Linked DNA regions of Homo sapiens: region 1 is linked to region 2. Evidence: fine-mapped expression QTL. Tissue or cell type: whole blood. Region 2 holds a variant in brackets; the other region holds the start of a gene. All regions are shown on one strand. Distances are from middle to middle.

The links. PIP is the estimated chance that this variant, and not a neighbour inherited with it, causes the effect.
Region 1: LRRC4 starts here. The variant in region 2 is fine-mapped to the expression of LRRC4 in whole blood (INTERVAL, PIP 0.94).

What each region holds. Positions count from the first base shown.
Region 1 is chr7:128,028,271-128,036,270 of GRCh38, forward strand. LRRC4 (leucine rich repeat containing 4) reads right to left here and starts at 3,167. Exons shown (of 2, transcript NM_022143.5): 1 at 2,643-3,167; 2 at 1-2,470. The coding sequence starts at 2,370. The coding sequence ends at 409. The region is part of intron 16 of SND1 (staphylococcal nuclease and tudor domain containing 1); the gene reads left to right. RefSeq lists silencers at 3,611-3,730, 4,381-4,450.
Region 2 is chr7:128,073,561-128,081,560 of GRCh38, forward strand. SND1 (staphylococcal nuclease and tudor domain containing 1) reads left to right here. Exons shown (of 24, transcript NM_014390.4): 17 at 942-1,130; 18 at 7,800-7,941. Among named protein-coding and RNA genes, the nearest start is that of MIR593, 4.3 kb to the right of the region's middle. RefSeq lists enhancers at 3,047-3,548, 3,549-4,048. The variant T/C (reference allele first, on the strand shown) is at 4,365.

The sequences.
Region 1 (8,000 bases), 45 kb before region 2:
CTATGAAGCATCTTCTAAAAAATGACAGATTCAGTCTATCCCTCTTGCCCCCTCAGCAGCCCACACCCTACCTCTTTAAGGATGTTTGTTGTTTTAGTTTATTTTATCTCAGCAATTTCAACCTTATACCAGAAATCCCTTCTGGCAGCATAGCAAGTTAACTTGTGGCTTGTACCCCACAACGTTCCCAAGATTCCCCCCCACCCCCTTTAAATAGAACTTACAAGTTAGAAAATATTTTTGTTTTGACTTTTTGTCTTTAAATTTTAATATAATCTGTTTTTTTTAACCAGCCCATAGACTTAATATATAAGCATATACAAGAAAAAGTCTCTCCCCACTCTGTACAAAAGTTGCTGTCTTTGTGTGCATTCTATTGCATTTTATAAGTTTTTTGGGGGAGGGGAGTCATATTTGAGTTTCCTGTACCTTGTCCTTGGTATGGGTCTGAATTATATAAGGTTCAGAGATAGTGGTGACTGTGGGGTGCAGAGAGTTCCCCAGGCTGTTTTCTGTCCAGTGGGCCCCATGTGCTGGTTTGTAGGTGTTGTAGTTAATATGGTCATGAATTGTGGGCAGCACTACTGCCCCCTCACCTGATACACCGGACGGAGCTGCTGTTGCTGCTGCGGATGTTGCTGCTGGGATGTCTTCGTCCACCTGGATTATCTCAACAGTCCGGGCGGCTGTGACTGTACTCCGCTGCTGGTGCCGCTTACGAAGTTTATAGAAGACAATCAACATGGCGGCAGCTAGCAGAGTCACTGCCACAAAGCAGCCAATGATGATCTTGGTGGTCTTCATGACTTCATCCAGGCTGGTCTGCATCTTGTCAGTGGTGTCTGTCGCGGGTACTGCCACCTGCTTGGGCACACGGGTAGTCTGAATGAGCACCGTGGTAGAGGTGGTATATGCCGGCTGGTAACCAGTGGACGTGGTAGGAACAGGCTTGTACTTTCGCGTTGTGTCCTCAGGCGAGATCTCCGTGGTCTCCACTGTTACTGTGGTGAAGAAGCTGTAGTTGGAGGTGTTAAGCTCAGCCGTGCTCACATTGAGGTAGGCCGAGGCGTTGGAGTTGCCTGCAACATTGGTCACCATGCATGTGTACACCCCAGTGTCTGAAAGCAGCACGTGGGAAAAGTTCAAGGTGCCGTCGTTGAGGACAGAGATCCTTGGGTGGCGGGAGGCGTGGCTGAGCACTGTCCCATTGGGCAGCAACCACTTCACGGAGGACATAGGGGGAGTCCGACACTTAAGTTCTGCCATCCGACCCTCAGAAATGTTGAGGTCTCGAGGTGCGTCCATGATGAAGGGGGCAGAGCACTGGAAGGAGGCCTGGTCCACCTCCACGAGGTAGCGGCCTCGCATGTGCATGGGAGCATGACAGCGGCCACAGCAGGTGGAATTGGTGGGTATATACTCTCGAAGCCACCAGGCTAGCCACAGAATGTCACAATCACAGTTCCAAGGGTTGTGGTGTAGATGCAACTCCACCAGGTACCTCAGCGGGGTAAAGAGGTCATGGGGCAAAGAAGAGAGGTTATTGTGGGCCAAGTTGAGTTCCACAAGTGAAGCCAGCCCGTCAAAAGCATTCCGCTCAATCAGGCTGACCTGTGAGTTCATGACCCAGAGCTTCTTGAGGGAGCTCAGGCCATGGAAGGAGCCAGGCCTGATCTCAGGGAAGTGGTTCCCTGACATCTCCAGCTCCTCCAGCCCCACCAGGGGGGTGAGATTGGGCATGTCTTTAATGTTGCACATGCCCAAGTTCAGATACTTGAGGTTGAACAGCCCCTCAAAAGCTCCCTCAGAGATATACTCCAGCTTCTTGAGCTCCCCCAAGTCCAGGCGCATGAGGGAGGGCACCCGGTTGAAGGCGTAAGAGGGGATGCTTTCGATGGGGTTGTTGCGAAGCCAGAGCTCCCGCAGCTTGGACAGGTATTCAAAGGCCCCGCTAGGGATGACTGTCAGCCAGTTGTCGAACAGCTCCAGGGTGTTGAGGCTGGCCAGGCCGTTGAAGGCCCCCACCTCAATCTGCCGGATGGAGTTCCTGCCCAACTGCAGGACCTCCAGGTGGTGGAGGTGGCGGAAGGTGTCGGCCTGGATCATCTGGATGTTGTTCTCCATGAGGTTGAGGTACCGGGTGTTCGAGGGAATACCCTGCGGGACCTCGGAGAGGCCCCGGCGCGTGCACACCACCTTGCTGAACTGGTTACTGCACGAGCAGACGGAGGGGCAGTTCTGGGGCCCGGCTGAGGCGGCAGCAGCGATGGCTGCACACAGAATCCACACTTGCGCCGTGAGGTAGACGAACGGGAGCAGGATGGCATTCCAGGTGTGGTGGTGCACAGTTACCTGCCACAAGAGCTTCATGGTGTGGCACGTTCATAATTCACCATCGCCTGGGATTTTGGCTCGGAAAGGAGAACCAGCCCTACCCCGGCTTAAGTGAGCTAGGAGCTCCTCTTTCCATCTGGAGAAGGAGGTGGGGAGGGGGCGATTAGAGAGACGGAGCGGATCGGCCGAAAAAAATCCTGCCAAACTCGAGCGGCCCCTGGTCTCCCAACCCACCCTCAAGGCAAGCCCTCCGAAAGCTACGACTCTCCCACACTGCAACCGTCCCCACCCAGTTCGCCGTCACCTACCTCGGAAGGAAGGCAGGAAAGCACTGGCGTGGTGTCCTTAAGCTTTCTCCACGGGAGCTGGGCACCTCGTTCCCATTCCGACTTCTTAGTTTTAATTAACAAAAGGGGGAAGTGGTGGGGGCGGGGAGGGCAGAGGGGAGGGGAGGGGAGGGGAGGGAAGGGGTGGGGGAGACAAAATGGCCTCTAGTAAATCCGGAGCCGGAGCCGGCGAAGCCGCGGAGTTGAGGCGCGCCTGGGAGAGCCAAGGCCCGGCGGGCTATGCAGGTGCATGCCCCCCCCTCCGCCCAAGGAGCGGCGCCACCAGCGCTTCCCGGCTTTGTCCTTGGACCCTGGCACCGGCTCGCTCCAGCCGCGGGGGAAGGCGCTTCATCGCCAAAGTGCGCTCCGGCGGCCCCGGCCCGCTCTGCGGGCCGCCGCCGGAGGGAGTGCGGGGGCGCCCCGAAGCCGCCCAGGCCGCACTCGCTGGATGCTGCGCTCCCTCTCCCGGCGTCGGCCGCTCCGGGCCGGCGGCAGCTGATTGCGGTCGTGAGCTCGCGGAGCGGCGAGAGTTAAGAGGAGGTGTTCGCGGCGCCTTCGCCCTCCCCAGACACACACCCCCTTTCTCCTCGCCTCTTCTCGGAGGGTGGAAGAGACAAAAACGGGGGGTCAGTTCTCCAGTCCGCCGGCTGCCGGCACGCGGGGCGGCGCTCCGTCCGGCCCCCGAGGACCAGCGGCGTGGCGGCTGCGCTCGGACCCGGTCCGCCGGCCGGAGGAGCGCGCGGCGCCCGCGGTCGCGCCCGCACCGCAGGCCCCTTCAGAGAGTCCGGGGGCGGGCGCGGGTCCGGCGGCGGCGGCGGCCGCAGCCCCCGGCGGCGCGCAACCGCCCGTCGCCGCCCGCCGCTGCCCGGCCCCCGGCGCGCCGCCGGCTCCGGCTTTGTGCGGAGGGAGCGAGTTCGCGGCTTCGGCTCCCGGCGCCCTCAGTGGCCGCGCCGCCAGCGGACTGCTGCAGCGGCGTGAGCAGCGGGGGTCGCGGCTGCGGGAAACGCTCCGGAGCCCAGGAACATAGTCCCCGCTGGCTAGCGGCGGCAGCAGCAGCAGCGGGGCCCCTGCGCGCGGCGCCCACCGTCTCCTCCTCGCGCCGGGCTCGCGGTGTTGCAGGCGGCAGCCACGCAGACTGCTCTCTCATCCTTTTGTCCTTCAGTCAGAACGTGAATGTACTGCTGACGCATACTGTTCTGGGAGAAGATTAGCGTGATGCAGTGCTCTTATGTATTAGCGCCGCTCCCCCTCCGTCGCCTGCCTCGCGGGGTTAACGCCGGCGCCTTCCAGCGCCGCGCCGGCCGGCGCCGCGCAGCCCCGCGCCTCCGGCCGCCCGTCTTCCTCTTTCCTCCTTCCTTCCTCCTCTCTTCCTCTCTCCCCCTCCCCCCTCCCCCCTCCCCGGGCCGCTTCCTCCCCGCCCCCTCTAGACGAGCGGAGCGGGGCCAGGGCGAGCGGGCGAGCGAGCCGGAGTGAGCGTCAAGTGAGGGGCCGCGCGCAAGTCGCAGGCGTTCGCAGCTATTTTGGGCCGGTCGGAGGGAGCAGTTGGGTGGCCGCTGATAGGCTGGAGCGGCGCGGGGCTGCGGCGGGAGAGCCCGCGCCGGCCCCCGCCCTCCGGCCCGCACCCGGGGCCCCCTGGCTCTGAAGAGCGGGGCTCAGGGGCCCGGCGGCCCGCGGCGGGGCTGCTGCATTTGGCCTGCCTCTCGCCCGGCCCGCGTCATCCTCACCCCCGCTGACTGCTGACGGGGCGCGGACTCGCGTTCGGAGTTCGGAACTGCGTGGTGGGGACTCGGGGGACGGCGGCCGGGGCCACGAGGCTCCCAGGACCGAGAGCCCGGGCTTCGCTGCTGCACTGCCGCCAGCCCCTCCTTCGCTTTGCCTCACCCCTCCTGTGCTCTCACTGGGGCTTTAAATGAGGGTTTCCTTAATGAGGGTTGCGGGGGCGGGAAACAGTGGCAGGAATGACCAAGTGTGATGAGCTGGGGAATGGCAACCTGGGACAGCACAGAGGCCGGCAGGAAGGATTGAGGTGAACTCCCGGAGCCCACGACACAGCCCGTTCATTCATGGAGCTGCAGCCGCGGCTTCTCAGTCTTCGCTGGCCGGAGTCGCCCCTTGCTCCCCGCTGCCCCCAGAGAACTGGGGGAAGGGAGGCGGGCGGCTGAGCCCCCTGCCCTGTGAGCTCGCCAGCCCTTCCTTGGCTAGGACTCTGAGAAGAACTGCGTAGCAGCCAGGGGTAGCGATTGGGAGTGGGGGTGGAATTCTTGCTCCTATTTCTGGTAGGAGACCCTAAGGCATTTGACAGACTAGTGTAGGAGAAGGGGACTAGGTCAGCTTTTTCCCACCCCCCTGAAAAAAGACTGCCCCTTTCTCTGCCGACTGTGGGTGAGGCAATCTAGCTGAGCCCTGGGAAGCCGGTCCAGTAGAATATAGCATGGTTTAATATCCCTTCCCTTCAAGAGCTGCCTCCAGACTCCTCAACCCACCCCTCTCCCCGTGTGATTTCTGGCAGGCTCGCTTGATAAACCCTCATCACCTGCGCGTGGGCTGTTGCTTAAGAACGAGGAGGTCCCAGATTTCTCAGCTCTCTGGTTTCTACCACACCTATTTCTGAGTATTGTCTTTTGCCCAGTAACCTGAACCTCTTTAAATACGCCATGGAATACTTGAAGTCCTGGAAACGGTTCCTTTGTAGGCAAGTTGGAGTCCCCATTCTTTGCCAAGACCTTTCTGTTATCATTTGCTGTCAAATAATAACCTTGTTAGTTTCTGTTTATTGAACCCTTACTCTGTATTCCACTGCAACCCTATTATTCATTTTATATGAGTCAAACGTTGCCTAGGGTCACTAGTAAGTGATAGTGGATTTGAGCCTCAGCACGTCTCAGATGTCAAGAAACTTGGGTGTGGAAGTGATTCCCCAAAGTATTCTCCTAGTGGGATGAGAACTCAGGTTTCATTCATCCACTTCAATAGTCATTTACTGGGATGCTTATCTACTATGTACTATCCACCATACCAAGAACTTATATCTGTTCTTGTTTAATCTTCATTTACCCAGTGAAAGTAATTGCCACACTTGTCTCCATTTCACAGATGAAGGCACTTAGCTTAGGCAGGCAAATAACTTGCCCAAGGTCACACACTAGAAAGTAACAGAGCCAGCCTTTCCATCCAGCCTTCAAACCCTGAGTCCGATGTTTTCATCACTAACAGGAATGCCCGCTGTGTCTACTCTTCATAGAGTAAATGGTGGAGGCAAGTGGAGGGGGGAGGAGAGAGAGACTGTAGGAAAGTTCAGTGAAGGATGTGTCAGAGAAGTAAGATGAAGGGTAGGAGACGGGCTGAGAAAATGAACTCTCATCAAGAAAAAGAATGAGGGAGACATGGAGGTAAGTCAAACCCTGATACTGGGGTTTAGTTCCATCTGGGCACTCAGACTTTCTGGTGAGAGGTTCTGCTCCTTTATAGCTGGCACCGACCTAGTAGAGTCATCTATTGCCTGAGGAGACCCCTGGCCAGGGTCTGGATGGCAGCGATTAAGTATGACTATCCTTCCCTCCTCAGGCAACAGGGTCTCTGCCTGGGCTGGTCCTCTGCTACTGTAGGCAAACTCAAACCCTGTCTGTTCAGCTCCAGGCTCCACAAATGAAAGCTGCTGCCCCGCACTATAAAGGTAGATGAAAGTGGGGGCCGAGTTGGGTCAGACCAGTACTTAGTAATGAGGTTGTCTCTCAGTAAGTATTTGTGACTGCCATCCATGAAGGTGACTATGCCCAAGCTCTGTCGAGCTCTACATCAGGCTGCTTTGCCCCCTGTAAGCCAGCTGGGCCAGGAAAGCACCACTGAACCTACTAACTGGACTACAGAGGAGGCTGTGGGGCCGTCGTTGCACACAGCCCTTCTGAGCTGAAAGTGGGATTGCAGCCTCTCATTTTGGTAACCCAAGTACCATCTAGCTATGGCATCTTGCTCCTCACAGCCCGTGGCTCTGACTGCTTCTTGGATTTGGAATGGTGCCACCAAAGAATAAGAAGGAAAGAAGGCTACTTACACCCTAAGAGGAAGAGACAGTGGATTCAGATTGTTTTCACTTGCAGTTTCACACAGGGAGACTGCTGTGATAACGCCAGAGAGAGCTAAAAAAGCCAGCAGTGATTGGGGAAGGCCTGTGTCAGCAGCCTGGTATTATAGAATGAGCCCTGTGCTAAGATTGGGATACCTGAGTTCTAGTCCCCTTTAGACATGTGACAAATCTTAAAATAGCTCTAAACATCAGTTTTTCCATTTATAAAATCAAGGAAATGGATTAGAAAGTTTCTTACCGCTCTCTTAGTCCATGATTCCTGTCCCATCTCAGATATGTAGCTCTGTGAAGGTTGATCCTTTGGAATTGTAGCCAAGTCTTGGAAATGGGCCACAAAGTTAAGTGAGAATGCTTTCTTCATTTAATCTAGAGATCCACAGTGCTGGAGCAGAGCAAATCGGACTGTGTTTTCCCAGCTACTAAAAAGACACATAGATCACAGAATGTTAAACTAAAGTGGACCTTGGAGATTATCTGGATTTAACCTCTCACTTTACAGATGTCACTGATGAAGCTCAGAGAGGCACAGTGACTTACCTAAAGCTACATGACTGATTAGTATCAGAGTCTGTCCTTTTTGACCTCAGTTCCTCTAAGTAACAATGTATGGCTAATTGGCATTTAAACCTGGGCCTTGAAGATATTTCCAAATGCCTGTCTAATGTGGGCTTGTATGCCAGTGCAACTATACTTTGCTGGATTGGGATAAAGAAGAGTCTTCAATAGCACCAGTCTGCACTTCCTAGTGACTTTGGGTCGCCAATAGAAAATGACAGAAATGGTCATCTAGAGGACCCAGGACTCTCCCACCCAGCCAGGATAATTGGGTTCCTTAGTAAAGCCCAAGGCTAGACCACTCCCTAACCTGATATGCATCCCTGAGGCATTATCCTGAGCAGCCACTAGATGTCCATAATGCCTCATAGGGTGTTCCAGGAGTGAGCTGGGTATCGTTTTGCCACCAAATAGGCTTTGCGGACTCTTTTAAGGGTAGGTCCATCAGTGGCAGGAACAGAACAGGAGCAAAGACATAAAAGGAATTTGGGAAACTAGAAAGAAAAAAGTAGTATGGAAATTGCCCTCCACAAAGGGAAGGAAAGATATCAATTGGTGAATCAGTAATAATAAAAAGTAGGAATGGTCTACATGGAAATAGTCACTGCCTTCTTTCCAAGGTAATGAACACATTTGTGTGTGTGTGTGTGTGTCTTAGTTCCACCCACGTGTGCAAACACCTATCAGGGACAACTAGCCAT
Region 2 (8,000 bases):
ACCTCGAGAATTCCCAGGTATTTAGACATTCATTTTATTGCTTAATCGAGCTTGAAGGCATTTAAATTAATACAAGTTTTTACATTTGGCAGCAAAGACATTTATAGGCCCCTTTAGCAGGGAAAGAAAGAGGTCAGGAGAAAATCAAAGAAGGAATTTATCCTGGGCAGTGGCCTTCACGATGTGGGAGCAGATCAGCTACCACGAGGGCCACGATCCTGAGGCTGCCCTTTTAGAAAAGCAGTCAGTGCTAGGTCTGTTATCCTGGGTCCTCGGGATGAGACAGTCAGTGGAGGAGGCCTTGAGGCCCGTGGAGATTCCTTGAGGGCTCTGGGGTTCAGCCACAGCCCACACCCTTCTGGCCACTCCTTCTGCGGGATTGTCACTCACTGCCCTTGCGCTGATGCATTTCCTGCCCGCGTCTTTCTGCCTCTCCTGTCCTCTCCCCCTCTCCTCTCCTGCTTTTCATGCAACCACTTTAATTACCTTCATTAGACACGAATTCATTCAGCTCTACCAGGAAAAGCAGCCTCCCTCTCCCCAGGGGTTGCCTCGCTCCCTAAGGACCTGCCTGTCTTCTAGCACAGAGCTGGGGAGGGTGCTGAAGAGTGGGAGGCACCAAGACCTCTGCCTGCTTCTTCACTTGCTCCTGACCTTCAGCTGCGCTCTCTCTCTCTCTCTCAGGTTAAGGAGAATCCCGTTTGCCCCGGTAGCTTTCTGCCGCAAGGAGGGGAAGGGGCTCTGAGAAGAGAGTCGAGTTTTGGGGTGTGTCTGTTCCCGTGAGAGGCTGAAATTGAAGGGTTCTGGGGGTTCCCAGAGGTTGGCAGCGGCTGCCAAGGCCTGTGAGCCCAAGGCTTCGGCGCTGCTGTCCTCCCCACGGGCACAGCCCCTGCACACTCAGGCCTGGCCCCCACAGGCTTACGCCTGTCTCTCTGTCCCAGGTGGAGGTGGAGGTGGAGAGCATGGACAAGGCCGGCAACTTTATCGGCTGGCTGCACATCGACGGTGCCAACCTGTCCGTCCTGCTGGTGGAGCACGCGCTCTCCAAGGTCCACTTCACCGCCGAACGCAGCTCCTACTACAAGTCCCTGCTGTCTGCCGAGGAGGCCGCAAAGCAGAAGAAAGAGAAGGTACATGTGGCAGCCCAGCTGTGCTCTCCCTGCCCTCCCGTCCTCCTCACACACTAATGCTGCTGCCTCCAGAGAACAGGAGGAAGTTCTCTCATCCCCACAGAGTAGCCCAGGAAGGTGTTGGTCTCAGACCCCACACCAAGGCCACACACAGGCGAGGAGAGGCTGCCAGCTGAGGTGTCCTCGGCCACAGCCTGTTGCAGACCTGAGGTGGGCCTGGGCTGCCAGCCCAGAATGTCATCAGTGATCCCAGGCCTGCTCAGGTGGTCCTGAAGCAGAAATCTGTCTAGGTGACTGTGGAGCCATGGGACAAAATGCCCGGGGCGCCCCTCCCTCCCCAGCCCTGACCCTTCTCTGTCAGTGCCCTCAGGACTGGGCGGCCCAAGCCCACATCTGAATTTCCTTCACATTGCCCCGTGGGGAAACAACCCTAGGAGAGGCCTCTAGCTGTTAGGACAAGAGATTTATAGCCCATCAGTCTCTGTGGGCACCGCATTGAAGAGACAAGGGGGATGGGGTGGAAAGTGGCTTTTGGAAACCAATTGACAATTGAGGAATGCAGTGATTTGGAGGTGGGAGCCGGGCTCACCCAGCCTGTTGCTTTTGACTTATAGCCCGGCCCTGATAATGGGGATAAATCAGCTGGCCACCAATTTGTCAGGGCTTCTCTGAGCTTGAGGAGGATTCGTGGGACAGCCGTGCTGAGCTATAAATTTGTTCCAGGAATAAATGCTTCCTTCCCCATGGGGCAGCCATCTGGCTCAAAACTCACTTCCCAGAGCTAAGGCCCGGACACCTGCCAAAAAGAGTCGGGGGCTTTGAGGCCCCAGAAGCACCAGATTCTTCACCAGCCCCAAGCAGCTGCCTCCTCATTCAGGGCATCTCTTGTCCCCTTGGGACTGTCCTCCTGGGTCTCTCTCTATCTATTCTTCCCTTCCCCTGGGGATTGGGGCAGGCAACCAGCCCCTTGGTGGTAGAGGAGAGTGGAGGTGGAAAGACTCCAGGGAAAGGTGGACCACAAAGCTAGCACAGATGAAAGGGACGGTCAGTGCCCTGCAGGAGGCAGCCACCATCAGACCTCAGAGGAGATTCCCACCTCCTGCTCACATCAAGCCTCCTCCTCCCAGAATGAGGGGGAAGCAGGCAGCCTCAGCTCCTATAGGAAAGGAGTCACACGGCTTCTTCCTGGATTTCCTGCTTGTGACAGCTGAACTTAAGACTGCCACCCCCATGTCCTCTGCCTGCTGCAGGGAGAGGGGGGGAGGGGCAGCGCTGGGGCCTCCTGTTTAAAGGTTGGCACTTTCACAGAAGAGTTAGCAGCTGGGGGTAGAGCGGCAAGCCCCAGAGTCTAACGCCCAGAGGCCAAAAGCATCTTCGTCCTTGCCCTGCTTCCTGGCTTTTCAGCAGTGAACCTGGAAGCCACCTTTTCAGAGCTGGGCGATCCTCTACCCTCTAAGAGTAGAGACTCTAGAGGAACCCAGGGGAGCACAGGGAGGGGACTCTGGCCTGAGATGGAAGGGTGGGTTCCCTGCCAGGGGCTGTGCTGAACTCAGCATCGTTATTTACTGCACAGTGGGTTTGTCTGAAAGAGCCCAAGTCACCATTTTGCTGGTGCCACTTGATGACGCTGAGGAGTAATTACCAGTGATTAATTACTTACACGGCCTGCGTGTTTTTATTCCAGTCCAATTAAAATGCAGTGCACAACTCTCAGTGCTAGGGCCTGCCGCCTCCTGGGTCCCTCTCCTGCAAATCCCAGTCTGCTCGTCAAGGATCCTGAGGAACCGAGGCTGGCTTTCTTCCTCCTGGAGGGGCTGTTTCCCAGGAGCAGCACTAGCAGAGCTTTGTAGCAGCTCTAAGAGTTGGCTGAACCCTGATAAGAGCATCTGGTGGCCGGCTGGGGGACAGTAACCTGAGTATCTGGGGTGTACCCAGCCTTGTCCCACTTGATCCCACAAGGGCTGCCTTACCTGTCAAGAGACAGTGGTTACAAGATCCTGTTAGCATCAGGATGCAGGAATGTTTGTGCCTGTAGCTAACCAAGGAAAGGTAATGCTGAGGGATTCTGTGAGACCAGGAAGTGCAGAAGGCTTTAGGGAGTGTGATTGTGTGTGCATGCATTCGTGAGTGTGTCTGTCTGGGGGAATCTGAGAATGCTGGTTTCCCAGCTACGAAGGCTTAACTACCTCCCTGCTGAGTGTAATTCCTCCCTGTGCCCTGTGGATGCCTCCTCAGTGAAGAGGCCGATAGGGCTCTCCACTTCCTTGGCAGGAGGTAACCCCCACTTCCTCCTCAGCAGCCCTGGGCAGACCTGAGGACCAAGGAGGGAACCACAGATGGCAGATGCCTGTCCCCCCTCCTTAACCCCATCTCACACACGTGCTCAGCAGGGCCCTGCACAGGGCTGGATTGGCCATCGATTGGCTTTTATTGAGCTTGGCTTCCCTGCTGCAGGCCTAAAGGCCTCCGCCACCTTGGCCCCTCGCCAGCCCCACCCCTGGAGCCTTGCAAGCAGCAATGTTAAACAGGATTTAGAAAGGAAAGACTCCAGCCAGTGGATTCTCTGTCCACAGTCCTCATCACCTGCCAAGAGAAGGACCTGGGACTCCCTGAGGAGGAAATGCAGGGAAGAGAGAGAGCCAGGGCAGGGAGAGGAGAGGAGAGACAGCCTCCATTCCTGACCTGCCTGGTCTGTGCCTGGCTTGATGGGCTCTTTCCCTCAGGGTGGCCGCAGCAACAGAACACAAGGAGCCCCAAAGTGTAGAGGGGACCCGAGCAAGACAGGAACTTGCATGGCAGAGCAGCCTGGAGCAGATGAACAGGCAGGAGGGGCCTCCATCCACCCTTCCCAGTCTTGCTCTGTAGCTGGGGCCACCGGGGGTACCAGCAGTGCCCCACCAGGGGCAGAGCTCCACCCTGGCCTTGGCCTGGAGAGACACTTCCCCCACCTGACCGCAAACCCTGGCATCAGTCAGCTGGGACAGCCTCTCCACAATAGCAGGCTTAGTAACAGCCTCTCCACATGCTTAGAGGTGGTCCATGAGAAGGGCAGACTGTCCTGTGGTTGGCTCTCCCAGCATTCCTGGGCCCTGCTGCTTAGGTCAAGCTCAGGACCCCTGTTCTCTGCCCAGCTCTTTGGCCATAGAGGCTCTTCCCCAGCTCCTCCATCTTTCAAGAGGCTGGGGTAGAGCCATACAGCAATAATTTTCTGTGTCTGGGTGTACAACTACTGTT[T/C]CTTCTGGAGTTTTCCTTGTCATCTCCCCAGAGGTCCAGGAAGAGGAGCATCTACAATGGGGATTCCCAGAAACCAGCTTCTTATGGGAAATCTGAGCTGTGAGGGGCTGAGGATGGCTGTGGAAAGTGGCTGGGTCTGGCAGGTGTCTTGCCAGTGAGTGTGTCTCCTCCATGCACCCCAGCTCTGCAGAAGGGCAGCCTGAGCCAAATGCACCCTTGTTCTAAGGATGGGGACAAGGGCAACCACGCCTGTCCCAGCTGACTGACTCCTTCCCACCAAGGTGCCACCTGGCCAGCCTGCATGGACCAGCTTGCCCATGTGGCTGCAAGTCCCAAGGAACAGCTGGTCACCTCCATCCCCACAGGGAAAGAGGGAACCGTCATGGCTGCACTGCCTGAAGGGCCAAAGGTCAGCCTCTCCTAGAAACACAGTTCCTTTATCTGAGGAGACAGCTGTCTCTCTCCTACCCTCTGTATGCTTCTTGGCAACCTCAAGTGCCAGCCACTTTGTGTATGGAGACACCTTGCTTCTGCTGTCTTCTCAATTCAGGTGGCAGTGTGCACCACCCCACCCACCACGAAGTGAGCTGTGGCACCTTGTTACAGGACTGGCCCTAGTGCTGGGGGCTGAGGGCCATCCCCAAGGCTTTGGTTTGCATCTTCCGTGACCTCACGCCTGCTGCCCACCTGAGCCTGCTGGGAAAGAAGCTCCACCCCACTCTCCCCAAGGAGGACACCTGATGCTGTCACCCAAGGCACTTTTACTTGAGGAGTCTTTAGCAGTTTCTGCTTTCATCCTGTGTGTTCCGAATTCATCAACACTGCTGAGGGGCCGCCTTCCCCCAAGCCAAAGGAGCAGGGTGGGGCTAGGATGGGAGCCCTCAACAGCTTGCAGGCTCAGGGGCCATGGCCCACTCAGGAACCAGCACAGAATGCCGGTCTCTGTTAACAAGCTCAGTGCCGGGAAAGGAGGGAGCTGGCAGGAAGAGGGAAGAGCACCTGCATGGGATGCAGAGCAGAGGACGTGCTGAGGGATTCAGGACTGCAGGGGTGCCTGCTGGTAGGAATGAGGGAGCAGACTCCTGGGTCAGGAGGGCTCCATCCCAGTTCACTTAAGGTAGTGCTGACAGTCTCGTCTCTGAGGCCGAGTGAGTCCCACTGATCCTCAGAGCTGCAAGCGTCCCAGAAGGGCTGGGAGCCCAGGTGTCAATAGGAGTGACTGGCTAAGTAGATACCAGGGAACTTCCAGCTCTGGAGGCCCAGGGCAAAAGCCTCAGGCCCATCAGGACATAGGCTTGGCATCAGAAGCATTTATGGCTCTCTCCTGGCCCTTTCACAGGGAAGCCCACAAGCTAGAGACCCACTTCCCCACATGGGCAGGAAGGCCCTTGAGGGATTAGGGCCTCTGTCCTGACTAGAGGCAAAGCTGTGGGTTAAAGTCCTGCTGCCTGCCTCCTCCCCTCTGGCCAGCCAGGGCTTAGGGGACTAGAAGCAGCAGTGTGTACAGAGGTCTCTGGTGATGGGGACAGGTGTTAGGGTATCAGGAGCCTGGAAGGTGAGAAGGGGTCAGGAACTATTTGGGTAGGAGGCCAGACCCCATACCAGGGGCCCACAAGCCCAGCCATAGAAGGCACTGCTTGATGTAGGATGGTGGAAAGCTTGGGCCTGGGAGATGTCTCAGTCATTCCCCCATAGCCGCTCCTTCTAGTGGAAGAACACACGCTCAGGCCGCGTTAAAGGCAGAAGTGTGGGGTCTGGGTTGACCCAAGGTGGTTCCAGAATTCCAGCATTCCTGCCTTTCTGCTGTGTCCTGAAGCTCCTGAGGAATCTGCATTTCAGCTGAGAGAGAAGAAAGGGGACCCAGAAAAGTTTGACCAATGTCAAATGGCAAGTTCAAAAACAACAGGGACATAAGTCCTCATCTCCCTCCCCACCCCCCACCAACAAACAGCTTTTTCCTCCTGGTTGGTGGTGTTTTCTCAGGGATACCTAGTCAATGCCAAAGTGCCCCTGGAAGAGCTGTAGTGCCAGGCTGCCTATGTTTGAATTCTGATTTCACTACTTCTAGCTGCAAGCCTGTGTACCTCAGTTTTCCCATTTGTAAAACAGGGATAATACCAAGACCTACTCAAAGGGTTGTTGTAAGGACTAAATGAATTAATATTTGGAGAATGTTTAGAATGGTACCTGGCACCTAATAAGCACAGAAGTTTTGGGCAAATACTTTTAATCATCCTTATTCCTGTGTGCGTCTGTGGGACCCCACGCGTGATCCATTCTCTGCACTCTCCCACCCACCCTTCCTGCTGCTCAGCTGGAAAGCCACCTCCCTCCCCTGCTCTGACAGACCTCACCATTTGGATAATCTCCTGGCTGCAGGATTGGACTTGACACGCTGTCGCGTCAAATCAGCTTCTGAGCCACTGCAGCCCTGACAGCACAGGGCTTTGGGGAAGGAAGGGAGAGAGGGAAGGGTGGAGAGCGCATGGCCCAGCTTCTGGGCTGAGGTCAGAGCAACCTGCTGGAGGTGAGGAGGATGGAGAAAGGGAAAGTTGCTGAGCAGAAGCATTCTTGGTGAGCTCTTCCCCAGCCTAGGGCTGTGGCTTGGACTGCTTCAGGAGCACCAGGAGCCCTGTGACAGCAGGAGGTCCTGCAGAATTCAGAGTGCCCTGCAGAGTGCCACGGGGAAGGGAGATGGGGAGCTGGAGCAAGAGAGGTGCGGGTGTGAGGAGCCCAGAGCCAAAGAGTTCATGAAAGCAGGGCTCTCACACTCGGACGTGCATGAGATAGCCTGGGATCTGGTTTTGCTCTTTTTTACTCTCTGGGATGCTCAGAACAGATTGTAATTTGGTAGGCCTGGGGTAGGATCTGGGGCCTGCATTTTTAATAAATTCCCTTGTTGGTTCTGATGCCTGCCAGAATTTGAGAACTGCTAGATCAGGACTTTAGAGAACTCACCTTTCCCCTCCGAGATAGAGGGCTTCAGGGGCTCAGCCTGGTGTGAATCGAGTGCCCCACAGTCACTCGCCCAGGGCCGATCCCATTTGCCCAAAACCCCTTTCCCAGTGTCTTTTTTTTTTCTTCTTTTTTGAGACGGAGTCTTGCACTGTCGCCCAGGCTGGAGTGCAGTGGCATGATCTTGGCTCACCGCAACCCGTGCCTCCCAGGTTCAAGCGATTCTCCTGCCTCAGCCTCCCAAGTAGCTGGGATTACAGGCGCCCACCACCGCACCCAGCTAATTTTTTGTATTTTTAGTAGAGATAGAGTTTCACCATATTGGCCAGTCTGGTCTTGAACTCCTAACCTCGTGATCCACCCGCCTCGGCCTCCCAAAGTGCTGGGATTACAGGCATGAGCCACCACGCCTGGCCTCCCAGTGTCTTTTATGACTTCACTTCCTCGCCCTCTTCTCACCTCTGCCGACTGAACATGCAGGTCTGGGCCCACTATGAGGAGCAGCCCGTGGAGGAGGTGATGCCAGTGCTGGAGGAGAAGGAGCGATCTGCTAGCTACAAGCCCGTGTTTGTGACTGAGATCACTGATGACCTGCACTTCTACGTGCAGGATGTGGAGACCGGTGAGTGCTCAGGCCGCTGGCTCGTGGTTCCTGGCTTGGTCCAGCTGGCGCTGCCTGGG